2 separate regions of the Homo sapiens genome follow, and region 2 is linked to region 1. The links come from fine-mapping of genetic effects on gene expression. A gene starts in region 1. The other region holds a variant in brackets. All regions are shown on one strand. Distances are between the middles of the regions. Region 1 holds the start of DENND6A (DENN domain containing 6A). Region 2 overlaps ARF4 (ARF GTPase 4).

Region 1 (16,530 bases):
ATTAGATAGATTCTCATAGGAATGCGAGCCCTATCGTGAACTGCGCATGCAAGGGATCTAGGCTACCTGCTCCTTAGGAGAATCTAATGCCTGATATCTGTCCCTGTCTTCCATCACCCCCAGATGGGACCGTCTAGTTGCAGGAAAACAAGCTCAGGGCTCTTGCTGATTCTACATTATGGTGAGTTGTATAATTATTTCATTATATGTTACAATGCAATAATAATAGAAAGAAAGTGCACAATAAATGTAATGCACTTGAATCATATGAAAACCATCCCCCCATTCTGGTCTGTGGAAAAATGTTGGGGACATATACAACATGGATACCGTGGACAAAGGGATGATTCACTTCCTGGGCAAGATGGACCACCCTGGGATTTCATTATGCTACTCAGAATGGTACATAATTTGAAACTTAAGAATTTTAAAAATATTTTTATATTTTTATTCTTTCTTTTACCTTGCAGCTCCAGTTCAAAGGAATTAATGTATTATTGTTATTATTATTATTATTATTAAGACAGAGTTTCGCTCTTGTTGCCCAGGCTGGAGTGCAATGGCATGATCTCGGCTCACTGCAACCTCAGCTCCCTGGGTTCAAGCAATTCTCCTGCTTCAGCCTCTTGAGTATCTGGAATTACAGGCATGTGCCACCACGGCTGGCTAATTTTGTATTTTTAGTAGAGACGGGGTTCCTCCATGTTGGTTAGGCTGGTCTCGAACTGCCAACCTCAGGTGATCCACCTGCCTCAGCGTCCCAAAGTGCTGGGATTACAGGTGTGAACCACTGCGCCTGGCCTATTTCCTGGCACTTCTATGCCTTATAAGGAAAGACTACTAATTTACTGTGCATAATCTAAAGTTTTGTTTTCTGACTCCTTTTTATCTTTTCCTTCTATTCTATTAACCTATGGTGTTTTGTTTTCTGCTCTTGTCATGCTCTGCCTCAAGCAACCTCTTTGTTCTTCTTATTTGCTTCTTAGTCTGGGAAACCAGACAAGTAAATCTATTAAAATTATGTGTAAATTTATTATTACTTTTAAGGCTAGTCAAAGCAGTGGGAGTAGAAAAGGAACAAAGAAATCTCTAATTGGTTGCGCCACTGCACTCCAGCCTGGGTGACGGAGCAAGACTTGGTCTCAAAAAAAAAAAGAAGAAGAAATCTCTAATTGGTAGTGTTCAATTAGTTTCAATTAGTTGTAAACACCACTGCACTTGGACCAGCCAGAACTATGTGTAAACCTAGACAAAATAACTTATGAGTGAAGACCTCACATCTCTTTGATTGAAGAGTATGCATTTGATTATAGTCTCCGTTTTGCATTTTGGCTTATATTGAGCCTATTAAACCCACTTCCTAGTGCTAACTGCATCAGACAGTTGGAAAAGTAACCTTTATTTTTATTTTACTTATTTTTTTTTAATAGAGACAGGATCTTGCTCTGTTGCCCAGGCTGTAGTACAGTAGCGTGATCATAGCTCACTGCAGCCTTGAACTCCAGGGCTCAAGAGATCCTCCTGCTTCAGCTTCCCAAGTAGCTGGGGCTATAGGTGTTGGCTACCATGCCCAGCTAATGTTTTAAATTTTTTTGTAGAGATGGAGTCTCCCTATGTTGCCCAGGCTGGTCTCTAACTCCTCCCACAGTTTGGCCTCCCAAAGTATTGGGATTACAGGTGTGAGCCACTGCACCTAGCCAAAAAGTAACCTTTAAATAAGTGGAGTGTTATCTTTACTTTCTTAAGCTAAGAGTGCATTACACTTAAGAAACATTTTTATGTTAACTTTTCATGTATTCATACAAGTGACAGTAAAAGGAAAATTCTTTAAAATAAGGAAAGAGCAGTTCAAGATGCTTTTGTTTTGTTTTTTTTTTTTTTTGTTTTTGAGACAGAGTCTCGCTCTGTCGCCAGGCCGGAGTGCAGTGGCGTGATCTTGGCTCACTGCAACATCTGCCTCTTGGGTTCAGGTGATTCTGCTGCCTCAGCCTCCCAAGTAGCTGGGACTACAGACATGTGCCACCACGCCTGGCTGATTTTTGTATTTTTAGTAGAGACAGGGCTTCACCATGTTGTCCATGATGGTCTCGATCTCTTGACCTTGTGACCCGCCTGCCTTGGCCTCCTAAAGTCAAGATGCTTTTTTAAAGTGCATTCATGGCCGGGCGCGGTGGCTCACCCCGTAATCCCAGCACTTTGGGAGGCCGAGGCGGGCAGATCACGAGGTCAGGAGATTGAGACCATCCTGGATAACACGTTGAAACCCTGTCTCTACTAAAAATAAAAAAAATTAGCCAGGCGTGGTGGCAGGCGCCTGTAGTCCCAGCTACTCAGGAGGCTGAGGCAGGAGAATGGCGTGAACCTGGGAGGCAGAGCTTGCAGTGAGCCGAGATCGTGCCACTGCACTCCAACCTGGGTGACGGAGGGAGACTCCGTCTCAAAAAATAATAATAAAATAAAATAAAGTGCATTCATTCATTCATTAAATATTTACTGAGTGCCTGCCACATGCCAGGCATTGTATCAATAATAAGAATGTAAAAACGAAAACAAAAAAACAGCTCTTCATTATTTTTTCTTTCTTTCTTTTTTTTTTGGAACGGTCGAGGGGACAGCATCTCACTCTGTTGCCCAGGCTGTGCAGTGGTGCAATCACAGCTCACTGCTGCTTTGACCTCCTGGGCTCATGTGATCCTCCAGCCTCAGCCTCCTGAGTAGCTAGGACTACAGGTGTGTGCTGTCATAATTCTGGCTTTAAAGAATCCTCTTGCCTTGGCCTCCCAAAGTGCTGGGATTAGAGGTCTGAGCCACCACCACACCCAACCACCATTTTTTAAAGCTGTCACAACCTGGGAAAACTTCATAGTGCATTTTATTTTTTATTTTATTTATTTATTTTTTTTAGATGAAATCTTGCTCTGTTTCCCCGGCTGGAGTATAGTGGTGAAATCTTGGCTTACTGCAACCTCTGCCTTCCAGGTTCAAGTGATTCTCCTGCCTCAGCCTCCTGAGCAGCTGGGATTTCAGGCGGATGCCACTATGCCCAGCTAATTTTTATATTTTTAGTAGAGATGGGGTTTCACCATGTTGGCCAGGCTGGTCTCGAACTCCTGACCTCAAGTGATCCGCCTGCCTTGGCCTCCCAAAGTGCTGGGATTAAAGGCATGAGCCATGGCGTCTGGCCCTGATCGTGCATTTTATAGTTTTCTTTGGCTGGATCCTCCCTTCAAAATCTGTATTTGAGCATTTTTGTCTTCCAGAGAAGTACAGCAGTAAACTTAGTTTTCTATTGATAACACATTGGTATTGGGCCTCTGTGTATATTTCCATGTATTTTTTTCACCACCGCAAGTATAGTTATGTCCCAGCAGCCCTGGCAGCATTTACCTTAAGTGCAAGAGGGAAGTCCCCTGGCTGCCCATCTAGGTAAATATCTAGGACATTTGGACTCCCTGTGGGTCCTTTTGGTAAAACTAAGCCCAGAGACCTGATAATGCATTTCACAATTCACACCATTGTCTGATGCTCAACCTTTTATTTTTTCTTTCTTCTGTTAAAACTATTGAATTGCCAGGATTTTGGTTAGGGGTGAGTAGAGAAGTTTGGAATGTTTTTAATCCTGTGTTCCATGTTCTTGGTAATATTAGAAGAGCAGCAGAGCCATGAATCTAGTCATGCTCTTGGCTAACACAGTCTACCCTGACTTAAGTGCTCCTCACATGAAAAGAGATCCAGGGCTTTAGTTGACAGTAAATACAACCTGAGCCAGTGATGTGACCTGGCTGCCAAAACAAGTAAATGTGATATGAACTGGCATTAAAAGAAGCCTGGTGGCTGGGACAAGGAAAGGAATAGTCCCAGAGTACATTCTGCAATGTTAAGATCACACCTGGAGGATGGTATTTCCTCCCAGGCTGTAAGAGTGATGTTGACAAGTTGGAGTATGCCCAAGTTGGGCAACAGGATGATGAATGGCCTAGAAACTACATCTTTTGAGGAACGGTTGGAGGATGTGGGGTAGTTACCCTGAAAACTAGAAGGCATGTGGGTGTGGGATAACTATTTTCAAACGTTCGCAGGGTTATCATGTAGAAGAGTTGGACTCTTCTGTGTAATCTCAGCAAGCACAACTTAGACCAATGGGTGTGTATTACAAAGTAGCTGATTTTGTCTCTGTAAAGGGAAGAACTTTCTAGCCCTTATGAACACCCAGAAAATAGTAGCTCTGAAAGGTAGTTACTTAACTTTATTTATTTATTTATTTATTTATTTATTATTTTTGAGATGGAGTCTTGCTCTTGTCGCCCAGGCTAAAGTGCAGTGGTGCTATCTTGGCTCACTGCATCCTTCACCTCCCGGGTTTAAGTGATTCTCCCACTTTAGCCTCCCAAGTAGCTGGCATTACGGGAGCACACCAACACACCTGGCTAATTTTTTGTATTTTTAGTAGAGACAGGGTCTCACCACGTTGGCCAGGCTGGTTTCAAGCTCCTGACCTCAAGTGATCCACCTGCCTCAGCCTCCCAAAGTGCTGAGATTACAGGCGTGAGCCACCACGCCCGGCTATTTATTTATTTATTCATTGAGACGGAGTCTCCCTCTGTCGCACAGGCTGGAGTGCAGTGGTGTGATCTCAGCTCACTGTCACCTCTGCCTCCCCAGATCAGAGGATCCTCCCACCTCAGCCTCCCAAGTAGCTGGGATTACAGGTGTGCACCACCACACCTGGCTAATTTTTGTATTTTCACTAGAGACAGGATTTCACCATGATGGCCAGGCTGGTCTGGAACTCCTGACCTCAGGTGATCCACCGGCCTTGGCCTCCCAAAGTGCTGGGATCACAGGCTAGTGACTTAACTTTAATAGAGAGTGTTAGAAAAGAGGCTGGCTAACTGAATGTCAGAAGATCCATGAATAGGAAGTTTGGAGAGATGATCCTATCCAAGATCCTTTCAGAGTCAAAGGTTCTTTTGATGAACCATAAGAAGGTGTCAGTACCTTGTTCCTCAGCTCCCATTAACAACAGAAACTGTGTGAAAATAGACTGTAAGGCAGAATGTCAAAGTTACGAAGGTAGAGGGAAATAAAGCCATAGCTGCTTTGTTTACCCTAGTGGTTATTCTGTTTCTGTGTATAAAGATTTAAGTAATGCTTTTTTCTGTTTTTGTTTTTTTTCTCCCCAAACAAGTTTTTTACTTTCAAAATTCTCTAGAGCTTTGGTGTGCTTTCTTTCTTTGGAAACTTCTGGCTCTCCTAATATGTTGTTTTCAGGGTACTGTATTTTGACAAGATCATCCTTAACCCAATATTATAAAGCAACACTTCACAGAATCGCAGTTTGTGTCTATGCGTCGAAGAACCAGCCCTGTGGAACAACTTATGTTCTTTTTTGGTGCTGGTTTTTGACACAGGGTCTTGCTGTGTTGCCCAGGCTGGAGTAGAGTGGCACAGTGATGGCTCACTGCAGCCTTGACCTTCTCCTTAACCCAATATTATAAAGCAACACTTCACAGAATCGCAGTTTGTGTCTATGTGTCGAAGAACCAGCCCTGTGGAACAACTTATGTTCTTTTTTGGTGCTGGTTTTTGACACAGGGTCTTGCTGTGTTGCCCAGGCTGGAGTAGAGTAGCACAGTGATGGCTCATTGCAGCCTTGACCTTCTGGGTTCCAGTGATTCTCCTATCTCAGCCTCTCAAGTAGCTGGAATTATAGGTGTGTGCCACCATGCCCAGCTAATTTTTAATTTTTTTTTAAGAGACGGGGCCTCCCTATGTTGCCCAGGCTGGTCTCAAACTCCTGGACTCACGTGATTCTACCGCCTCAGCCTCCCAACGTGCTGGGATTACAGGTGTGACCCACTGTGCTTGGCCACAACTGGTGTTTTGAGATCATTAATAATTAATAATGAAGTAGCATCTGGTAAAATGTGTACATTAGGATAGCTTAGCTTTTCCCAACAGTCAGTGAGGTGAGTTAGTAATCATCACTCTCATTTACCAGAAACTGGGTTTTGGAGCAGCTTGCCTACCACGATCGTGGTAGATTCTAGCTGGCACTAGAATCCAGAACTTTTGACTTCCACGCCAGTGTTCTTTCTAATACAAAAGGCTACTGTTCTTTCCTAATACTGGGTTTAGAGCCTTACTTGATCGCAGAATACAGTTTTTCCTCTTTTAACCACAGCAGTTCTCTGGAGTAGGATGGCAGGCTACTTTGGCCAAAGACTTGGCCTCTAACTTAAGTGCTGTCCCTAAGTTCATTTTTGTCTAAAGGAAGTCTCCAGCAAACGTCACTACTGATGTCTGTGCATACTTGACCACCTCCTTGAAAACAGGGACGCTAACACTTGCTCCAAAAAAAAATTCTAAGAATGTTAAGAGGGCAGTATTTGTCAAATGGAATGGATTTCACTGGGCAGTGCAGCAAAATGCTTAAGTTCTGCCGTGTTTTTTGTTTTGCGTTGTTTTTTAGAGACACAGTCGCGCTCTGTTGCCCAGGCTGGAGTGCAATGGCTGTTCGCAGGCGCGATCATAGCGCGCTGCAGCCTGGAACTCCTGCTCAAGCGATCCTCCTTGAACTTAGCCGGCCTCAGCTTCCCAAGAACCTGGGACTACAGGCGTGACACCTCGCTGGTTTACTCATTTTTCTGTTGAGGTATTATTGTGTGTTTCCTACTTTTACTATGCTATTTATACTCAACATAGTAGGTGCTGAATAAATACTAGTTAGTATCCTGGCTGGTCCAATACTCAGTAAAAACTGATCTCAGAATACGAAGCTGCTTGAGACCAGGCCCTTGCCCCAGTGTTCAGAGATCCACAGGTTGCTGTGGAGGCCAATCTGCCCAACCTGGAGTTCCAGAAAGGTCTGGGGATGTGTGTTGAGTGAGTCACAGACAGCCAAACTAAGAAAGGAGGAGGTGGTAGGGTGGGGAGGCCTTGCTGGAGAAGGAACAGGTGAGTGAATGCACAGATCTCTGAATCAGCAAACTGAATGAGTGAACCGCAAGCCGATATCGGAGTTGTCATACTTGTTGGGCTAGTCATGTAACCTCCAGGACCTCCATTTCCTTATCTGTAAAAAGAAATAAATAGTCTACTTATTTGCGATTATGTGAAGATTCAATAAGGTAATATTTGTAAGTATTCGCACTTGTACTTGGCATATCAACTGGCACAAAGTAAGCGTTCAATGTTAGCCACCGTCACCATTATGCGTTCATATATTTTATTTTTATTTTTTTGAGACGGAATCTCGCTCTGTCGCCCAGGGTAGACAGAATACAGTGGCGCAATCTCAGCTAACTGTAACCTCCTGGGTTCAAGCGATTCTCCTGCCTCAGCCTCCTGAGTAGCTGGGATCACAGGCGCGCTCCACCACGCCTGGCTAATTTTTTCGTATTTTTAGTAGAGACGGGGTTTCACCATGTTGGTCAGGCTGGTCTCGAACTCCTGACCTGATGATCCGCCCGCATCGGCCTCCCAAAATGCTGTGATTACAGGTGTGAACCACCGCGCCCGGCCTACGCTTTCATAATTTAATAATACCTTATAATAATTATGAACTGTGTCATTCCACGAATAATTTATTCCCTGGTCGTTGACTGCGAACGAGGTTGACAAGGATTCATAAACAGCCATTTCAGTCCCAAAGAGCTTTTAGACAAGGAAGCCAGGACCGGCTTCACAATCCGAGACAAGCGGCAGCGTGACGTCCCCACGTCCGCTCCCAGGGTCACGTGACCCGCAGCCCCGCCCGGACTGAGTGGGTCCCCAGCGGCTGCGACAGCAGCGTCTGCGCCTGCGCGGAGGCAAGCGCGCTCTGCGGCGCGGTCCGCTGTGGAGGCGGCGCGAACGGTCAGGGGGCGGCCGATGGCTTTGAGGGGCCCTGCGGGCTTGGGGCCCGGCTCTCGAAGGCCGTTGGACGAAGCGGTGGCAGGGGCCGAGGGCCGCGAGGCGCCGGCCCTTGTGGCGGCGGGAGGCGCGCCAGAGGACGATGAAGAGGACGATGGCCGTGGCCGGGGCCTGCTGCGCTGGGACAGCTTCTCCGCCTGGCTGCACTGCGTGTGTGTGGTGGGCTTCGACCTGGAGCTGGGCCAGGCCGTGGAGGTGAGGCCCGGCCCCGCCCTTTCTCGGCGCTCCTCCCCTGCGCCGGGGCGGCTGCAGCAAAGCCAGCGGCCCGCGGGCTGACCGGCCAGGACCCTGTCCGCGGCGCATCCGGGCGTGGCCAGTCTCCCCTCCCGCGCTCTTTCGGGCTGCGGTCCTACGGCACTTCCCGTGGGAGGATCTTGGGCTGCGGCTAGGGGTGAAAAGTTCTCTCTAGGCCCCTCCTAAATACTTGTTGATGTTCATCCTGTTCTTTCTTTATTTCTTTTAAACGCAGAGTCACAGAATTAACTAAAAGGGTTAGTAGCACCCACCCGGAGAAGCCCGCAGGCAGGATGTTTGTTTGGTACTTTTTCAAGAACAATGCCCATAACAGATGATGAACTCTAGTAGCCGAACTTGCACAACCAAGTTTTAAGGCTCAGATTGTTTTAGTCATTTGCAGTAACTGTTTGAGCGTTTCCCTCAGCCTGAGTCGAAATGCTTATCTCAGCACGCATTTTCTCCCTTTCCTCCTTTTGTGCCTCATTTCTGTTTTTTTTTTTTTTTTTTTTTGAGACGGAGTTTTTGCTCTTGTTGCTCAGGCTGGAGTGCAATGGCGCGATCTTGGCTCACCGCAACCTCTGCCTCCCGGATTCAGGCAATTCTCCTGCCTCAGCCTCCCGAGTAGCTGGGGTTACAGGCATGCGACCATGCCCGGCTAATTTTGTATTTTTAATAGAGACGGGGTTTCTCCATTTTGGTAAGGCTGGTCTCGAACTCCCGACTCAGGTGGTCTGCCCGCCTAGGCCTTCCAAAGTGGTGGGATTACATGCGTGAGCCACCGTGCCCGGCCTCATTTCTGTTATTTTTTTTTATGTTGCCTCTGGAACAGTTGGTGTGAAACTACTGTCAAGATGAATATAGGGAACATCATTTGCTTGTCAATCAGTCAACTTTTCCATTCTTATGTATGGCCCCTTACCGAAAGGCTTTAGAAACATCTATTCTTGACGTTGTTGAAGGTCTTTTTAGCATAAGGAATTGCTTGCTTTCATGTGTCCAAGGAAATTGTTATCAGAAGGGCGTTTGTTTAGACGTTTTGGTTTTGGTTTTTTTTTTTTTTTTTTTTTTTTGGTATTGGTGACAGATTTCGATTTCATTAATACTGTAGTGGCCTGGTTGACTAAGAAAATTGGCTAGGGGTAGTTTTCTTAATGCGAAGCTACTGCTTTCGTATTCGGCCTGCCTTCTGGATGTTTTATTATAACACAGTTCAGCGACATTAAGTTTCCACTAAGAACCAGGCATTATGTTAGTTGTGGAGCATACAAATAGGATGTGCTCTAATCTGTATTTGTAGATTGAGGCAATAATTTAGAGGAGAACCAAGAATTAATCATAGTAGCTGATAAGGCCAAATGCAGTGCCTGGCACCTAGTGGCATTCTATAAATACTTTTGATAGAATAGGTGAATATGTGAGCAATTCTTTATCTTATTAAAGTAAGAAAAACAGTTCCCAAAGATTTTGAGTAAGAGATTTATAAGCCATTTATTATTCACCTTGCCATGTTAACCTGAAGTTATATGTACAGCAAGATACAATTTAACCAGAAAGCATAAGAATGGGTTGTTGTAGTTGATTGTGTTTTTAAATAGCTAAAGGAGATTCTTTTGGATTCTCATTATTTGGGACATTCTTTATAACGTGAATATGTTTTTTGACCAAATAAACAGAAAATATATTTGAGATGCTGCAAAAATGTGAATTATTAAAGGACTTATTTTGAATTTCATTTTCCATAGTGTATGCCACTGTATAGAGTTTTTTCTAGGTCAGGAGTTCTTAACCTTTTGCTTCCTGGATCTTTTAAAAATATGAACATTGTGAATTTTCCACTAGGAAAAGGCTGAGTAAGATGAAATCATGTATGTGGTTCCATATATGTGGTTTCCAGCTATTTAAGACATAAACCTAGTAGGGCTTCAGAAAATGGCTAGAGTTCAGAACCAGGGAAACCTCTTGGTTTTGCTCTTTTTTTGTGTGCAGATCTTGTTTATATTTCATGTTCCCTGCAAACTGCCTTCTTCCCCTTCTCTGATTTTTTTTTTTTTTTTTAAAGACAGAGTCTAACTTTGTCAGCCAGGCTGGAGTGCAGTGGTGTAATTTCGGCTCACTGCAACCTCCACCTCCCAGGTTCAAGTGATTCTCCTGCCTCAGCCTGCCAAGTAGCTGGGACTACAGGTGCATGTCACCATGCCCAGCTAATTTTTGTTTTTTGAGAGAGAGAGTCTTGCTCTGTTGCCCAGGCTGGAGTGCAGTGGGGCAATCTCGTCTCCCTGCAAGCTCCGCCTCCCTGCAAGCTCCGCCTCCCAGGTTCACGCCATTCTCCTGCCTCAGCCTCCCAAGTTGCTGGGACTACAGGCACCCGCACCACGCCCGGCTAATTTTTTGTATTTTTAATAGAGACGGGGTTTCACCGTGTTAGCCAGGATGGTCTCGATCTCCTGACAGTGTGATCTGCCCACCTCAGCCTCCCAAAGTGCTGGGATTACAGGCATGAGCCACCGCGCCTGGCCTGCCCAGCTAATTTTGTTTTTTTTGTTTTTTTGTTTTTTTTAGTAGAGACAGGGTTTCACCATGTTGGCCAGGCTGGTCTTGAACTCCTGACCTCAAGTGATACACCTGCCTCAGCCTCCCAAAGTGCTGGGATTACAGGCGTGAGCCACCGCACCTGACTTTTTTTTTTTTTTTTCCTTAGAGACATGGTCTGCCTCAGATTGGAGTGCAGTGGCATGATCATAACTCACTACAACCTCGAACTCCTAAACTCGAGGGATCCTCCTGAGTATCTATGAATACAGACATGCACCACTACACCCGGCTATTTTTAATTTTTTTTGTGGGGACAGGGTCTTGCTATGTTGCCCAGGCTGGTCTCAAACTTGTAGCCTCAAACTGTCCTGCTGCCTCTGTCTTCCAAAGTGCTGGGATTATAGGTGTTGAGCCACCATGCCCAGCCCTTCTCTGATCTTTAAGGTGAGAAGCTAACGTTTTTAGCCACTTCAGTGAAAAAGAGTGAATCTTTAACTCACTTCCAAAGCCAGAGGAAGATAATCTGGCCTGGTTTGGGGCAGGTTCCTACTCTGATACAATTGGCTAAAGCCCTGAGTAGAAGGGGGAGTGGTTCACCTTGCATAAAATGTCTTTTAAGGCCCTGTCCTAAGTGAAGGGGGTTAAGGAGGTCTTTGAGCTAGGAAGAAACTGAACAAGGTGTTGACTGCAGGGGGTGTGCTGAGCTTCTTTTCCCCTGAAGTGGCTCTGGAGGCATTACCACAGAATCAAAGTGTCCTCTGGAACAAGGTTTGAAACCTCCTGGGTTTGATATACTGTACCTCACTTTTAGCTTTGAAATTACCAATTATTTAGTAAAGCCTTAATTATCCGAATACAGAATTACCTTATTTATTCAAGTTTTTTTTTTTTTTCTGAGTGAATAATAACATACTCATTGCTGAAAACTTGGCAAGTAAAGAAATCATAAACACTAGGCCGGGCATGGCGGCTCATGCCTGTAATTCCAGCACTTTGGGAGGCCGAGGCGGGCAGATCACGAGGTCAAGAGATCGAGACCACCCTGGCCAACACGGTGAAACCCCGTCTCTACTAAAAATACAAAAATCAGCTGGGCGCAGTGGCATACACCTGTAGTCCCAGCTACTCGGGAGGGTGAGGCAGGAGAATCGCTTGAACCTGGGAGGTGGAGGTTGCAGTAAGATCGGGCCACTGCACTCCAGCCTGGCGACACAGCAAGACTTTGTCTCAAAAAAAAAGAAAAATTATAAACACTAGAAAATATCACTCTTAATTCTACTAAGAGGCAACTGCTATTAATATTCGGCATTTTTGTTAATACTTTTTTTCTTTATATAATTTTGTATCTGTCAAGGATTAACTTGATTGTTAGGAACAGAAACCTCAAATAAACTTAAGTAAAGGGACAGTGATTGTAAGGATTCCAGGCAGTCTTTTGGAATCCAAGTGTGTGGGAAGCAAGGATGAACCTGTGGGATTTGGAAAGCCCCAGGCCTTTGTCTCTGGAGCTGTGTGTTTTTTTTTGTCTTTGGTCTTTGCATGTCTGTTCTTTTCTCCATGCTGAAGCTGGTTTGTGCTGCAGTGGCCTCAGTTTCTGCTCCCCCGTTACTCTGCTTGACTTTGGGTTTCCATGGTACTAATTTTAGCCAAACTCTTTTTCTGGAATGAGGCTGAAGCTTAATATTGGAGTATCTGATTGGCTCAGCATGGGACAGGTGTCCCATTTTGTTCACTTGTGGTTAGGAGACAAGGTTTCGCTAGCAGTAGCAGTCACTTAGGCTCACCCCTGCAATAGGAGGGACACTTCCAAAGCATAGTCTGGGCAGCAGTCTCCTAAACATGTCTACTGTGAGTCTGCTTTTATTCATAAATATTCTCATAAACAGTTTGTAAGATGATTAGACTCTTAATAAGCCGAGTGTGGTGGCTCATGCCTGTAATCCAAGCACTTTGGGAGGCTGAGGCGCGTGGATCACTTGAGGTCAGGAGTTCGAGACCGCCGTAGCCAACATGGTAAAACCCCATCTCTAATAAAAAAATACAAAAATAGGCAGCTTGGTGGCACATTCCTGTAATCCCAGCTACTCGGGAGGCTGAGGCAGGAGAATCGCTTGAACCCGGGAGGCAGAGGTTGCAGTGAACTGAGATCATACCACTGTAGTCCTGCCTGGGCAACAGAGTAAGACTTTGTCTCAAAAAAAAAACAAACCCAAAAAACAAAAAACTCTTCATAAATATAATTTTACAAAGCAGATGTTCTTTTCTTTTTTTTTTTTTTGAGGTGGTCTTACTCTGTCACCCAGGCTGGAGTGCAGTGATGCAATCATGGCTTACTGAAGCCTTGAACTCTCGGCTCAGGTGATCCTTCTGTCTCAGCTTCCCTGGTAGCTGATACTGCAGGCATATGCTTATGCACCAGGCTAATTTTTAAATTTTTTGTAGAGATGGGGTCTTGCTTTGTTGTCCAGGCTGGTCTCAAATTCCTGGCTTCAAGGGATCCTCGTGCCTCCACCTCCTAAAGTGCTAGGATTACAGACATGAGCGACCACACCTGGCTGTCATCCTATCCTTTGAAACTTTGAAGCCAGGTATTGACTTTTCTCTAGCTATGAAAGTCTTAGAGGGCATAGTCTTCCAACAGAAGGCTATTTCATCTACAATGAAAATCCGTTATTTAGTGTAGCCACCTTCATCTTTTCTCTTAGATTTTCTGGATAACTTGCTGCAGCTCTCTATCAGTCCTTGCTGCTTCACCTTGCACTTTTATGTTATGGAGACAGCTTCTTTCCTTAAACCTCATGAACCAACTCCTGCTAGCTTCCAACTTTTCTTCTGCGGATTCATCACCTCTCTCAGCCGTAACAGAATTGAAAAGAGTTGCGCTCTTGCTCTGAATTAGGCTTTGGCTTAGGGAATGTTCTAGCTGGTTTGCTCTTCTATCCAGACCACTCAGACTTTCTCCACATTAGCAGTAAGGCTGTTTCACTTTCTTATCATTGATGTGTTCACTGGAGTAGCATTTTTAATTTCCTTCAAGAACTTTTCCTTTGGCTGGGTGTGGTGTCTCAGGCCTGTATTCTCAGCGCTTTGGGAGGCTGAGGCAGGAGGATTCCTTGAGCCCAGGAGTTCAAGACCAGACTGGGCAACGTGGTGAGACCCTGTTGCATAGAAAAAAAGAAAGAAAAAAAGAACTTTTCCTTTGCATTCACAAGTTGGCTGTTTGGTCCAAGAGGCCTAGCTTTTGGCCTGTCTCAGCTTTTGACATGCTTTCCTCATTAAACTTAAATCATTTCTAGCTTTTGATTTAAAGTGAGAGATGTGTGACTCTTCCTTTTACTTGAACACTTAGAGGCCATTATAGAGTTATTCATTGCCCCAGTTGCAAATATTGTTGTGTCTTACGGAATAGGGAGGCCTGAGGAGAGGGAGAGAGATGGGGTAATGGCTCGTCAGTGGAGCTGTCAGAACACATGTATTTATTGATTAAATTTGCCATCTTATATGGGCATGGTTTGTGGTGCCCCCAAACAATTACAATAGTAACATCAAAGATAACTTATCACAGACCACTGTAACAGATACAATAGTAACAAAAAAGTTTGAAATATTGTGAGAATTACCAAAGTGTAACACAGAGACACAAAGTGAACACATTGTTGGAAAAATGATGCTGATAGACTTGCTTAATGTAGGCTTGCCACAAACCTGTAATTTGTAGAAACTGGTAACTGCAAAGCACAATAAAATGATGCACAATAAAACAAGGTATGCCTATATTAATAAAAGGAGAAGGAAGAATGGTATTGGAAGGCAACAAGCATTTACTGCCTTACCTGAGAGCAGTTATAATCTTATGTAATCAAAGATTTATTTTGAAAGATTTCTAAGCTTGGGTTTTATGATATAAACTTTAGTAACTTTGAGCTGTTTGAGAGCCAAGGGTATATGTGCCTGAAAATTCTACACCATTATGTAACTTTGAAATAAAGGATTATGTTCTGTTTTACCTGGGATATGGAAATATCTGTTAATGCTTATTGAAAATGAGGCTAAACATTTATATCTTGGTAAATTTAGGCTATTTTTGTATTATTGGGATTCTATTTATTTTGTTCTTCTTATCATAAGAATCATCTGGGGCATTTGTTACATATGAGGATTCTGGGGCTCACCCATCTGCTTAATCAGAATCAGTTCCAGAGGATCATTATGTGTAGGCATGTTTGGAGTATGTTTTTTAATTTTCTCTTTATATAAACTTTTCTGTTTTTCTTGTAAACCAGCTGTTGTCAAAATGTGGTCTGAGGACTTCTGGGCATCTCTGAGACCGTTTCAGGGGATTTATAGGATGTTTTCAAACTATGTATGGCTTTTCTTCATGTTCTTCAACCAGAACAACATATTGCAATAGAATGAACATAGAATGATTCTGCCAAGAGCAAACATTAAAGAAAAACAAATTTTTTTTTAAAAAAAAAGAATGAATGCTGAAGCAGATATGAGAATCTAGTTATTTCTGTTAAATCAGACATTAAAGATATTTGCAAACATGTAAACAATGCCATCTTAGTAAGGTTTTTGTTTTGTTTAGGAATACAGGTTGTGTGTTCCTAATCTAAACATTCAAAATCTGAGACGCTCCAAAACCTGAAACTTTCTGAGTACTGACATGATGCTTTTTAAAGGAAATGCTCATTGGAGCATTTTGGATTTCAGGTTTTTGGATTTGGGATGTCCAACTGAGTAAGTATAATTCAAATATTCTAGAATCTGAAAAGATCTGAGATCCAAAACACTTCTGATCCCACCAAGCATTTTGGATAAGGAATACTCAACCTGAATATAGTTACTTTTCATAAAAATTGAATATGTTAATGAGTAATAGGTTATTATTTTAAAATAAATAAACAATTTTTTTTAATGATACTTTTAGTTTCTACAGTGGTGAATGTTGATAGATATAACTCATATAAACAAGAATTCTAGGCTGGACGTGGTGGCTCACGCCTGTAATCCCAGCACTTTGGGAGGCAGAGGCAGGCAGATCTGCTGAGGTCAGGAGTTCGAGACTAGCTTGGCCAACGTGGTGAAACCCATCTCTACTAAAAATACAAAAAAAAAAAAAAATTAGCCAGGCATGGTGGCGCATACCTGTAATCCCAGCTACTCTGGAGGCTGAGGCAGGAGGATCACTTGAACCAGGGAGGCGGAGGTTGCAGTGAGCCGAGACTGTGCCATTGCACTCCAGGTGTGTGCCACCATGCCTGATTAAATTGTTTTATTTTTGTGTTGCCCAGTGTGATCTTGAACTCCTGGACTCAAGGGAACCTCCTGCCTCCACCTCCCAAAGTGTTGAGATCCCAGGCATGAGCCATTGTACCCAGCCTCATTTATTCCTTTCCGTCACTAATTATTAAGTAATATTTGGACTTTATTTATTTATTTGAGACAGGGTCATGCTGTGTCACCAGGCTACAGTGCACTGCAGCCTGGACCTCCCAGGCTCAAGCAATTCTCTCACCTCAGCCTGTCAAGTAGCTGGACTACAGGTGTGTACCAACATGCCTGGCTACTTTTTTGTTTTTTTGTAGAAACAGGGTTTTGCTGTGTTGCCCAGACTGGTCTTGAACTCCTGGCCTCAAGTGATCTGCCTGCCTCAGCCTCCCACAGTCCACCTGCCTTAGCCTTCCAAAGTGCTGGGATTATAGGCATGAGCCACCATGCCTGGCTTTAGACTCTTTTCTTGAAACAGAGTCTCGCTTTGTCACCCAGGCTAGAGTGCAGTGGCACGATCTCAGCTCACCGCAACCTCTGATTCCCAAGTTCCAGCGATTCTCCTGCCTCAGC
Region 2 (13,248 bases), 120 kb after region 1:
GAGCTACTGCGCTTGGCCAATATATTTTGAAAGAGTTAGATATGAAGTAAAACCTTGCTAATCCTTAAGCCTAATAATTCTTGACCAAGGGTAACCCTGGGTTTATCCCTAGATTTGTTTAGAATGCTTTGTAATTTACTTTGCATTCTTAATTTGAAATTAGACCCAATTCTGGCCTCTTTGGACCATCTGAGAATTAAAAGTCTAAGTACTGCTTCCTAGGGAGTTCATGCTAGCTGGGGAAAGCTTTATGTGTTACCTGATAGAATCAAAGCTAAGCTCTTAGCTTGCATTCCCAGCATTACTGATCAGTTCTCCTAGCTATAAAATTTAAAAGAAACTATAGCTTTAACCATGTTTCTAACTTATACTAACAAACCATGGCACAGTGTGTAGTAAATTCCTCTTATAATTCCAACTAATTTGCCATTGTAAATAAGTAAATATTTGGCTTTTCAAATAATTTCATAGCAGCTGGGCTTATCTGTAGAATCCTAGCTTTTCTTCACTCTTGATTCTAGGCTGTTCCAGGAAGAAAATAATTAGGGATTAATACCTAAAATAATTCTCCTTCTCAATAATGTCACTTTGGGACTGATAGCATTATTTGCATTTTAAAACAAAGGCTGGGTGCAGTGGCTTATGCCTGTACTCTCAGCACTTTGGGAGGCTGAGGTGGGAGGATCGCTTGAGCTCAGGAGTTTGAGGCCAGCCTGGGGAACATAGTGAGACCCTGTCTTTACATTTAAAAAAAAAAAAAAAGAATAAAAATGGGAAGTTAGCAGTCAAAATAAAATTAGGTCCCTTTTAGGGGCATTACCTCTTGTAAAGGGTAGGTTTCAGGACCGGGTGCTATGGCTTATGCCTGAAACACCAACACTTTGGGAGGCCATGATACGAGGATCACTTGAGGCCAGTCCAGGCAACAGAGTGAAACCCTGTCTCTACAAAAAAAAATTAAAAAAAAATTACCTGGGCATGGTGGCATACTCCTGTAGTCCCAGCTACTTGAGAGGCTGAGGTGGGAGGATCACCTGAGCACAGGAGTTGGAGGCTGAAGTGAGCTACAGTTGCGCCTCTGTACTCCAGCCTGGGGGACAAAAGGAGACCTTGCCTCTTTTTTGAAAAAAAGAAGAAACAAAAAAATGGAAGGTTTGGTTCTAAAAAGGAGTAGCTTTTGAAATATGGAAAGGAGGAGACATATTTGCTAAATAAATGCCCATGATAAGCCAAGAACAATGATCTTTTATATCTCTGTGATTGCATTTAATCTTTAACAAGCTTATGAAGTTAGTATTTTTATTTTATTTAGACGAGGCATAGTCAAGGATTAGATAATATATATAACAAGTAGTATAAGATTTGAATTTGAGTCTGTCTTCCCACCACACTATATTGGCTCCCAAAGCATCAAACATTATTTTTTGTTTTTGAGATGGGGTCTCACTCTGTTACCCAGGCTAGAGTGCAGTGGCATGATCATGGCTCACTGTAGCTTCAGTCAACCTCCTGGGCTCATGTGATCCTCCCTTCTCAGCTTCCTAAGTAGCTAGGACTATAGACATGTGCCACCATGCCCTACTAAAATTTTAATTTTTTTCGTAGAGACAGGGTCTTACTCTGCCCAGGGTGATCTTGAACTCCTGACTTCATGTGATCCTCCCACCCCAGCCTCCCAAAGTGGTGGGATTAGAGGTGCCATGCCAGCCAAAAGTTTTCTCAAAGGATAGGATATTTAAAGTGATGGTTTTCCAGGTGGTATAGATGCAGTGTAAAATAAAATTTAAAAATTAAGTTATGGTTTCCAACAGAGATAAAGGAAATGGACTTACAATTTGCTAAAACAAAGGAAATTGTCATTTAATGGATGTAAAATAAGTGTTAGATGCTCCTGGAGAGCCCAGTACTGTGGTAATCCTGAGAGGTAAACAGAAAATGATGTAGGATGGGGCTGGGCGCGGTGGCTCACACCTGTAATCCCAGCACTTTGGGAGGCCAAAGCAGGCAGATCACCTGAGGTCAGGAGTTCAAGACTAACCTGGCCAACATAGTAAAATCTCATCTCTACTAAAAATACAAAAATTAGCCAGGTGTAATGGTGGGCGCCTGTAATCTCAGCTACTCAGGAGGCTGAGGCAGGAGAATTATTTGAAACTGGGAGGAGGGGTTTGCAGTGAGCTGAGATGGCACCACTGCACTCCAGCCTGGGTGAAAAAAAAGATATAGTATAGTCCTTTGCCCTTAGTGGATGTAATCTAGTTCCTTTTTTTTTTTTTTTTTTTTGAGATGTAGTTTGCTCTTGTCGCCCAGGCTGGAGTGCAATGGCGCCATCTCGGCTCACTGCAGCCTCCGCCTGCCAAGTAGCTGGGATTACAGGTGTGCCACCATGCCCGGCTAATTTTTGTATTTTTAGTAGAGATGGGGTTTCACCAGGCTGATCTCGAACTCCTGATCTCAGGTGATCCACCTGCCTCGGCCTCCCAGAATGCTGGGATTACAGGCGAAAGCCACCTCAACCAGCCTCGTTACTTACATAAATCAGTAGTGCAAGACAATCTGTTATAAGTGACATGATCAAAATTGATACTTTAGGAGTCAAGGTTTATCTTTTTTTCTTTTTTATTATTTTTATTTTTGCCCCCCCCCTTTTCTAGCTGAAAATTCTATACTTTCCCATTTGAAAGTTCTTAGAAAAACAGTTCAACTAGTTGCTTCCTAATTCCTTCCATTTATTTTGTAGTATAGAATTCTAATAATGGGCCAGGTGCCATGGCTCATGCCTGTAATCCCAACACTTTGGGAGGCCAAGATGGGTGGATCACTTGAGTCCAGGAGTTCGAGACCACATGGGCAACGTGGTGAAACCCCATCTCTACAAAAAATAGAAAAATTAGCTAGGTGTGGTGGCACGCACCTGTAGTCCCAGCTACTTGGGAGGCTGAGGCGGGAGGATCATTTGAGCCCAGGGGGTCAAGGCTGCAGTGAGCCAAGATTGTGCTACTGTGCTCCTAGGCAACAGAGTTGAGACCCTGTCTGAGAAAAGAAGCTAATATTTGTATCTCTAAGAATTGATAACTACCTTCCTTTTTTTAAAGAATGTCTTACTCGATCAGGTAAATCTTGAATTTTTCTTTCTTTTTTTTTTTAAGAGATAGGGTTTTGACATATTGTCCTGGCTGGTCTCAAACTGCTGGGCTCCAGTGATCCTCCTGCCTTGGCTTCCCATAGTGCTGGGATTACAGGAGTGAGCCACTGCGCCCAGTCTTGGATTTTTCTTGCTATCATTTTCTTAAGATGTCTTCCTGATCTAGAGTTGGCAGGCAGCATTCTGAAGCAAGTTAATTTTTTCCTTCCATGATGAAGCAGATAAAAACTGTAGTGTACACACTCGCGCTATCCCACCCCCCTTTTATTACTCTGTACATGCCTTTGAGTCAGTAAGCTAATTCAGTTAGTAAATTCATGGGGTTTTTTTGTTTGTTTTTTGAGATAGGGTCTCGCTCTGCCACCCAGGCTGCAGTGCAGTGGTGCGATTTCAGCTCCCTGCAACCTCCGTCTCGGGCTCGTGATTCCTCCCACCTCATCTCCCAAGTAGCTGGGACTA[A/C]AGGCATGCACCACCACACCTGGCTAATTTTTGTATTTTTTTGTAGAGATGACCTTTCGCCATGTTGCCCAGGCTGGTCTCAAACTCCTGAGTTCAAGCAATTTCAGGCCTGATCGTTTGCCTCAGCCTCCCAAAGTGCTGGGATTACAGGATGAGCCACCATGCCTGGCCAAATTCACGATTCTTTAGGATCCTTGATTTGTTATTTTTCTTTTTGTTCCTACTTTGTGGCTATTTTGGTACCTGCACTTAAATGTGAGAGTGCAGAGGGAAGGGGAAAAATAGATACAATTTATTCTTAGGGTAGTTGAGAAAAGTAATTAATTGGTGAAGAATAAAAATTTTTTAGATTTGAAATAGCACTAATAAATTAAACTTACAAATAGTTCTCAAATCAGCTTTTAGCATTACAGCCTTAAGTTCTTACTTTTAAAGAGACATTTTCTTCCTAATGTCTAACCATTGGTACCATTTTGCTGCCTACACTGTTTCATATAGAGAGTGTCGTTTAACTGTTAAAATTTACTGAAACAATTTTTCCCCAGGGTCTTATTTTTGTGGTAGATAGCAACGATCGTGAAAGAATTCAGGAAGTAGCAGATGAGCTGCAGAAAATGGTAAGAAATATACTTTAAATTCATCATTTTCAAGGTGTGCTTTTCTGGATTAAACTGGTGGTGGTTTAGTACATTTTGACTATGATTAGATTACACAAATGGATTGGGGGGGCTAGAAATAAACTTAAGAAACTATATTATCCACAGGTTCTTAATAATGTACTTCAAAATCTCTTATAGAGCGTTTTAAAAAACACATGGAAGAGTAGCTACTTCAGTAAGTTGGGAGGAAGGCAGAGCAGTGTTGTTTTTTTTTTTTTTAGAATGCCTCATGGGTAATCTTGATGCCTATCTCTGGCTGAGGATATCTGATTTAGCTCAGTCCCTTACTTTACAGATATCAAATCTATAGTGCTGTAGTGGTTTTGACCCTAGGAATCTTGGTTCAGATGTTTTGTTCCCAAGGTCATCGGTTCCATTTTCTCTATGCTGTGCCAATAATTACTTCAGAAATGTTTTTTAATAGTAACCATTTAAGGATAAGGAATTCCTTCTGAAAGTAGAGACAAATGTTTGGTTCACAGTGGCATTTTGCAGCCTTCCCATAGATTGGATTAATGTTTTCATGTGTTCATGTTGTTAAATGTACTAAATGGAGGAAGACTGCTGAGAATCCTTGTCATGATTTTAAACTTGTAGCCATAAAATATTTACTGAAATGAAATCTTAATTCTTGTTCATTCCTCCTAAGATTAGAGGGCAGTTTGTAAAACCATTGTGCCAGTATATGTGTAACTAAGTCATTGTTGGATTTTTGCCTGAGTCAAATGTCACCAGCTTTCCCTCTTCAAAAAAAAAAAAAAAAAAAAAAGCTTGGTTGAGACATACTTCACACACTATAAATGTCATCCTTTTTAAATGTGCATATCAATGGCTTTTAGCATACATAGTTGTACAACCATCATCACAATCTAATACTAGAAAATTTTCATCACCCTCAAAGAAATCTTGGACCATTAGCAGTCATTCCCATTTCCTTCCTCTCGTACACCACACTCCCAGCCTCTGACAGCCACTAATTTGTCTTTATACAGTCACCTATTCTGGACATTCATATAAATGAAAACATACAATGTGTTCTTTTGTGACTGATTTTTTCACTTAGCATAATTTTTCAGGGTTCGTCTATATTGCATCATGCATCAGTACAACTTCTGTTCTTGGTACTTTTTTTTTGTATATTTCATGATACTGCCAACACCCAGATAATTGTGTTATTGTCCCACTGTTGTTGGAAAGGATAGAAGTCCGAAAAGAATCATCATCTATCTAAGTACTTCTGCTACTAAGTACCATAAGAACCTGCCATAAACATTTTATTCCCACATGTATTTCTTGCCCTTATCAGTCCTGACAATGGGTAATCATGAAGGCTGAATGATGAGTGATTTGCTTTAATTTAATGGGGTGTAGGATGATTGACTTGGAAAACAGTTCTGTCTTATTTGAAGGCATATGATTGTTTGCTCTGGATTTAAAAACTGAAGGATATGAGACTTCAGTTGTAAGAGTGAACTTTGTGTCGAGAAATTAGGTTAATGTTTAATAATGTATTTAATGCTGAGTAAAGTATATATAGGAAGACATTTTCAAAAATTGGATTCCGGTTGGTAGTTGTTAATGCCTTACCTTTTATTTCCAGCTTCTGGTAGATGAATTGAGAGATGCAGTGCTGCTACTTTTTGCAAACAAACAGGATTTGCCAAATGCTATGGCCATCAGTGAAATGACAGATAAACTAGGGCTTCAGTCTCTTCGTAACAGAACAGTAAGTATTTGGAGGTTGATATTAACCTCTTGACTATTAAGACTTACTAGGATAGTTGTGTAAGCTAATATTCAGTTTAAACATTTATTATCTCCTTTGGACAAATAATGAGCACATCATTTATTTAAAAATATGGTAATAAACTTTAAATACCTTATTTGATTTTTGTAAAGAAACGGAAAACTACTGTAGAATAGGTCTAAAGATTATTGATAGTTTCTTTTTTCTTTTTTTTTTTTTTTGAAGGGAGAGGTGGAAGGAATGGAAAGAAGATTATTGATAGTCTTAATTTTAATTTTGTATCTTTTAAGTAACCCTACAGCAAATATTTTGAAATCTGGCTTTCTTATTAAGGGTCCAGTAATGTTTGTTTGCTTGTTTTAAAAGTGGAGATGGGGGGCTGGGTGCGGTGGCTCATGCCTGTAATCCCAACACTTTGGGAGGCCTAGGTGAGCAGATCATCTGAGGTCGGGAGTTTGAGACCAGCCGGACCAACCAGGGAGAAACCCTGTCTCTACTAAAAATACAAAATTAGCCAGGTGTGGTTGCGCATGCCTGTAATCCCAGCTACTCAGGAAGGCTGAGGCAGGAGAATCACTTGAACCCAGGAGGTGGAGGTTGCGGTGAGTCGCGATCGCGCCACTGCACTCCAGCCTGGGCAACAAGAGCGAAACTCGGTCTCAAAAAAAAAGTGGAGATGGGGGGTCTCGCTTTGTTGCTAGGCTGGTCTTGAACTCCTGGACTCAAGCAATCCTCTCACTATCTCAGCCTACCAAAGCGCTGGGATTCCAGCCATGGTGCCCAGCCTTGTTTGCTTGTTAACATAACAGTTTATGGAGGAGACCAGGTACCACGGCTCACACCCGTAATCCCAATACTTTGGGAACCCAAGGCAGGAGGATTGCTTGAGGCCAGGAGTTCCAAACCAGCCCGGGCAACAAAGTGAAACCCTATCTCTACAAAAATAAAAATTAGCTGGGTGTGGTGGCATGTGCCTTTAGTCCCAGCTACTTGGGAGGCTGAGGTGGGAGGACTGTTTGAACCCAGAAGTTGGAGGCTGCAGAGAGCTGTGATTGTGCCCATTGCACCCCAGCCTGGGTGACAGAGCAAGACTGTTTCTTTAAAAAAAAAAAAAAAAATTTGTACTTCTCTAAAATTGCTTATCATTGATCAGTGATTCAGTGATGGAGATAAATTATCAGAAACTTAGTGTCATAGGCTTTTTACAGTAGTTTTGCATTAACCTGTAAATAAGGGAAATACTGTGGCTGTGGTAAAAAATGAAACAAACAACAAAGAACCTATTGCAGGCCGGGTGCAGTGGCTCACGCCTGTAATCCCAGCACTTTAGGAGGCTGAGGTGGGTGGATCATGAGGTCAGGAATTCAAGACCAACATGGCCAAGATGATGAAACCCCATCTCTACTAAAAACTACAAAAAAATTAGGTGCAGTGGCAGGCATCTGCAAGCCCAGCTACTCTGGAGGCTGAGGCAGGAGAATCACTTGAACCCAGGCAGCAGAGGTTGCAGTGAGCCGAGATCACGCCACTGCACTCCAGCCTGGGTGACAGAGCGAGACTCCGTCTCAAAACAAACAAACAAACAAAAAAAAACAACCTATTGCCTGTTTGAGATATCTCAGGCTGATTTGAAGAACATAAACTGGGCCGGGTGTGGTGGCTCACACCTGTAATCCCAGCACTTTGGGAGGCGAAGGTGGGCGGATCACTTGAGACCAGGAGTTCGAGACCAGCCTGGGCAACATGGTAAAACTCTGTCTCTACTAAAATTACAAAAATTAGCTGGTCGTGGTGGTGCATGTGTGTAACCCCAGCTACTTGGGAGGCTGAAGGCACGAGAATCTCTTGAGCCTGTGAGGCGGAGGTTGTAGTGAGCCGAGATCACGCCACTGCACTCCAGTCTGGGCAAGAGTGAGTACTCTGCCTCAAAACAATCAGTCGATCAATCAATAAATAAGCAAGCAACACTAACTGTAAATGATACAAGTTTTCCATGCTGTGAAGGTATGAATTTGAGCCTTTCCCCAGCCTCCTAGGTTACTGAGATTTGGTATTCAAATAATTGGCAACATGGTATACCTGCAGTGGCCTTGCAACATTAAACTGGTCAAAAAAATTAATAAAAGTAAACTATGCCTTAAATGTAAATTGTTTTCTAGGTTTTTTTTGATACTTTCACACAGTTACTAGAGATAAGATTCGTTGCCATTTAAAAGCAAGAACGTTTTGGAATGCATGAGACTAAAGATGGTGAAATTGTCTGAAAAGCTTGCCCTTAAAATATCAACAAACCCTACTCTTTCTTTCTTTCTTTTTTTTTTTTTTGAGATGGAGTCTTGCTCTGTCACCCAGGCTGGAGTGCTGTGGCACGATCTCGGCTCACTGCAAGCTCTGCCTTCTGGGTTCATGCCATTCTCCTGCCTCAGCCTCCTGAGTAGCTGGGACTACAGGCGCCCACCACCACGCCCGGCTAATTTTTTGTATTTTTAGTAGAGACAGGGTTTCACTGCGTTAGCCAGGAAGGTCTCGATCTCCTGACCTCATGATCCATCCGCCTCAGCCTCCCAAAGTGCTGGGATTACAGGTGTGAGCCACCACGCCCGGCCTAACAAACCCTACTCTTTCAAAAATTTGCCTCTTCTACTTTGAGTTTAGTTTTATGGGAAACGAGAGTTATAAAAACCAGATGGGTAGTTTATTAGTTACTAATTTCCCCATGATTTCTTTTTTCAGATTAAGTGGTAGAAAGTTTACTAAAAGGGAACCAAAAACCAGCACTGAAAAGAAAGCTGAATGAGGGGGGAAAATCTTGTCTAAATATAATGAATAGGTAGAAGTAGCTTGATTGATTGAGACGGAGTCTCACTCTGTCGCCCAGGCTGGAGTGCAGTGGCACAGCCTCGGCTCACTGCAACCTCCAGAATAGGTAGAAGTGGCTTTATTTTTAAAAAATAATTTAATCTAAAAAAGTAGAGACAAAGTCTCACCATGTTACCCAGGCTGGTCTCGAACTACTAAGCTCAAGTGATCCTCCCATCTCCGCCTCCCAAAGTGCTGGGATTTATAGGTGTGAGCCACCACGCCCAGCCAGAAGTAGCTTTAAATATGGGAGAGTTTTGTGAGATGCAAGAGGTGTGAAAAGACTCTTAAGTTTGATTAAGAAAGTTTAAACACTGGTGTTATATATTAACTTTGTTAATCAAGTATTTTCTTGTCTTCTCTTTACAGTGGTATGTTCAAGCCACTTGTGCAACACAAGGAACTGGTCTGTATGAAGGACTTGACTGGCTGTCAAATGAGCTTTCAAAACGTTAAATGAAATTGGATATCTAACCAAGGACATGTTTGATAAAATTGGTCTAGGCTTGTTACAACAAAATTAGTTTGTATCTTGGTTATTAAACAGTATCTGGGACTGGTTTGGGCAGAATATTAAACTTATTTTGTTGCCAATTATTGTTTACCGAGTATAATGTTGCTATTTAGCAATGTGCTTGGTTTTAAAGAAATTCTCCTTGGGAAAAAAGTATCCTCTTTTAATTTTACTTCCCATAAGCGTAAATGCCTGGACATAGCTCTTGTGCAACCTTTAAATAAATTGTTTTGAGTGTTTTTTGAGCCCCAGACAAATAATGTTTTAAAGTTATCCCCTTGCTACTTTACTGATACCTTTATCATTCCTGAGACAGTTTGCTAATTTAAAAATGTAGCATTCCATTTGTATTTATTTCTCTCCCTTGCCAAAAAGATTTTCTAATACTGCTTGTACCAGCCAGAGAAAGATCCAAAACACTACTCAGCTCTCTTGCACTGAGGAAATTTTTCCCCCTACATTGACTCCTGGCCTACATCAGCCAAACTTAACCTTGGTGGGGTTTGGATTTGATAGCCAATTAGTTCTGTGCTGGTTGCAAAGAATTGATATTTAGATGGTTTTTAATACTCAGCAGATTGTCTTCCTTTATATTGTGTCTTTTTTATGTTGCATGTTGCTTTTGTTATCAGCCTGATTTTTTGCTCAGTATATGATAGTTCTGCTGATGTTTTGTTTATTGGGCAGACATATCTTCATTAAGAGTTTTTGGAAAACTCATCAAATTCGATGAATACATTTTCTTCATAACCCATTTGGAATTATTCCTAATAAAATGATAAAATACGTAATTGTGTGTGTTCTTTTTGAGTTTTGAAGGTATTTGAAATGTATTTTCTTATGTAGCCAACTTTGCTTGCATATTTTATGTACTGTGAACAGTAACACAGATCCCACTGGTAGGTTACTAATTGTATAAAGTGGAGATCTAGATTGTTTTCATGTGTATAACAGCATGGGGAACACTATTAAAAACATAGTTTTCTAAAGTCAGATCAAGGGTAAAAGGAGGGCCTGGCATGGTGGCTCACGCCTGTAATCCTAGCACTTTAGGAGGTTGAGGCAGGAGGGTCACTTGAGAATAGGAGTTTGAGATCAGCTTTGGCAATGTAGTAAGACCCTGTTTCCCCTGTCTCTACTTAAAAAACTAAAAACAAAACAACAACAACAAAAAAATCAGGTGGGGGGTGGGGAGGGGCGGCATGTGGAGTGGGGTAGGGAGAGTAAAAGGCTGTAATAAAATGAACTGCCCAAAAAGCATGTATGTATGTGTTTTTTAGTTAAGGTTAATTAAACAAAAAAATTCAGGTGCTACTTGTATGGCCAATATAGAGACTTAGTGATGCTACTTTCCTACAAAAAAGTTTCACAACCACTTTTCTTTTTAACAGGGCAAATTTTAGAACTTTAACAGAAAGCTGCATATAATTCATACAAAGGTATACCTCATAAACTACATCTATTAAGTTTTAAGGGCTCAACTTGATAACTGAGTAACTTAGTTTCTGTCTATATTCTCATGTTGCATTCTTAATGGCTTGTAAAGATTCAGCTAAATTTATGGATTGAAAATTCCAAAATCAAATGCATACTTTTAAAAAAATGTATATTTTTGAATTGTCAAATAAATAACAATGGCCAGGCGTGGTGGCTCACACCTGTAATCCTAGCACTTTGGGAGGCCAAGGTGGGCAGATTGCCTGAGCTCAGGAGTTCAAGACCAGCCGCAACATGGTGAAACCCCATCTCTACTAAAAATACAAAAAAAAAAAAAAAAGGGTCTGGTGTGCTGGTGCATGCTGTGGTCCCAGCTACTTGAGAGGCTGAGGCAAGAGACTCGCTTGAACCTGGGAGGCAGAGGTTGCAGTGAGCCAACATAGCGCCACTGCACACGGTCTGCAAGACTCTGTCTCCAAAAAAAAAAAAAAAAAAAACACTGGATTAACCAAAAGGAAATTAGAATTGGTTGATGATTAGGTAGGGCAAAGTGTATGTTTAGTTTGTGTTACTTGTTAGAAATGCAATTTCCCTAGCCAACTGGATGAATTCTCCTTTCTTCCTTCCAAAGAAGACAGGTGTCATTTCCTATAGGATAAAACTGAACTATAGTATAATTGTTGTGTGTGTAGTCTTATGGGGCATCAACTAGGAAATATAAAACATCAGTGAATAAGTTCAGCGTTAGGGCTAGGTATTTAACCTAGTTATGCAAAGGTGTTTACATGGACTGTAAAGGGACTAGAGAATCTATGTAATCTTACTCGTGATGTAAAGCAGCTCTTAGTACCATTGGAAATTACCTTTTTTTTTTTTTTTTTTTTTTTGAGATGGTTTTACTCTGTCACCCAGGCTGGAGTCCAGTGGCAGGATCTTGGCTCACCGAAACCTTTACTTCCTGGGCTCAAGTGATCCTCCCATCTCAGCCCCACAAGTAGCTGGTACTACAGGCATGAGCCACCATGCCCAGGTAATTTTTATAGTTTTTAAAGAAAGTATTAGGCTGGGTGGGGTGGCTCACATCTGTAATCCTGGCACTTTGGGAGGCCGAGGCAGGTGGATCACCTGAGGTTGGGAGTTCAAGACCAGACTGACTAACAAACATGGAGAAACCCCATCTCTACTAAAAATACAAAACTAGCCATGCATGGTGGTGCATGCCTGTAATCCCAGCTACTCGAGAGGCTGAAGTGGGAGAATTGCTTGAACCTGGGAGGTGGAGGTTGTGGTGAGCCAAGACCGCACCATTGCACTCCAGCCTGGGCAATGAGTGAAACTCCGTCTCAAAATAATAATAATAATAAAGTATTAGCAACTTGACACATTTACCCCTAAAAATTATTTTTTCTTCAGTCTTTGTATTTTTTTTTAAAGTTCCTTTTTTTCTTTTTCCAAACAGAAGTGGTTTAAATGTTTTGGGAGAAAGTATTGAGAGATAACCCCTAGCCTTTCCCTGTTTTATGCAAACATAAAATCACTGTCACTGTCCTTATTTATTGAAGTATTATGAAATAGTTGATGCTATCAAGATTCAATGCTTACTGTTCATTCAAATGTTAAACCTACTGTTGGTCAAGCAATAAGAGTTCTCTGTGACCGCCCCTATTGTACAGAACAGTTGATTATATCCCTAGATTAAAAAGTATTCTGTCAACTAATTGTCAAATAATGTCAGTAGAGAAACTGAAGAGAAATTGTGATTCCCTTACAGGATCACTTGGCAGCATCAGAGTTGAGGATAGTACGATTATCTGCTCTCTGGTTCCCCTGTCCAATAAGCATTTTTTTTTTTTTTTTTGTCCATAACATTTCCCATTGTCTTTTGTCTCACTTTAACATAAGCTGCTTTTCTGTGATGTAATATCTTGATATTTTGTTAAGAGTTTCAATTTCCATGAAATTTTCCACTTACCTTATATACCCTCCATTGAAAATAAAAAAGGCATGGTAGCTCATGCCTGTAATCCCAGCACTTTGGGAGGCTGAGGCGGGAGGATCCTTTGAGGCCAGGAGTTTGAGACCAACCTGGTAAATATAGTGAGACCTCCATCTCTATTAAAAAAAAAAAAAAAAGAAGTGTATCTTTTGTGGAGAGTATTGGTGTCTCATTCAGACACTTCAGTTTACTTGAGTATACAGAATTATCTTTCAGGCAGTAGTAATTACTTTCAGGTCACTTACTATGATCAAACTTTTTTTTTTGAGACAGGGTCTCGCTCTGTCGCCCAGGCTGGAGTGCAGTGGCATGATCACAGCTCACTGCAGCCTCAACCTCCCAAGCTCAAGCGATCCTCCCACCTCAGCCTCCCACATAGCTGGGACTACAGGCCCACGCCATCAGTCTTGGCTAATTTTTGTAGAGATGGGG

The links. PIP is the estimated chance that this variant, and not a neighbour inherited with it, causes the effect.
Region 2: its variant is fine-mapped to the expression of DENND6A in whole blood (TOPMed, PIP above 0.99).

The regions. Positions count from the first base shown.
Region 1 is chr3:57,684,361-57,700,890 of GRCh38, reverse strand. It overlaps DENND6A (DENN domain containing 6A), which reads left to right and starts at 7,814. Exons shown (of 20, transcript NM_152678.3): 1 at 7,814-8,109. The coding sequence starts at 7,873. DENND6A-DT (DENND6A divergent transcript) reads right to left here and starts at 7,686. Exons shown (of 2, transcript NR_135550.1): 1 at 7,549-7,686; 2 at 4,240-7,075. RefSeq lists silencers at 7,815-7,914, 8,025-8,264 and an enhancer at 7,986-8,486.
Region 2 is chr3:57,568,289-57,581,536 of GRCh38, reverse strand. ARF4 (ARF GTPase 4) reads left to right here. Exons shown (of 6, transcript NM_001660.4): 4 at 4,150-4,221; 5 at 5,864-5,989; 6 at 9,239-10,174. The coding sequence ends at 9,325. It also overlaps a transcript of PDE12 not described here. Among named protein-coding and RNA genes, the nearest start is that of PDE12, 19 kb to the right of the region's middle. The variant A/C (reference allele first, on the strand shown) is at 3,605.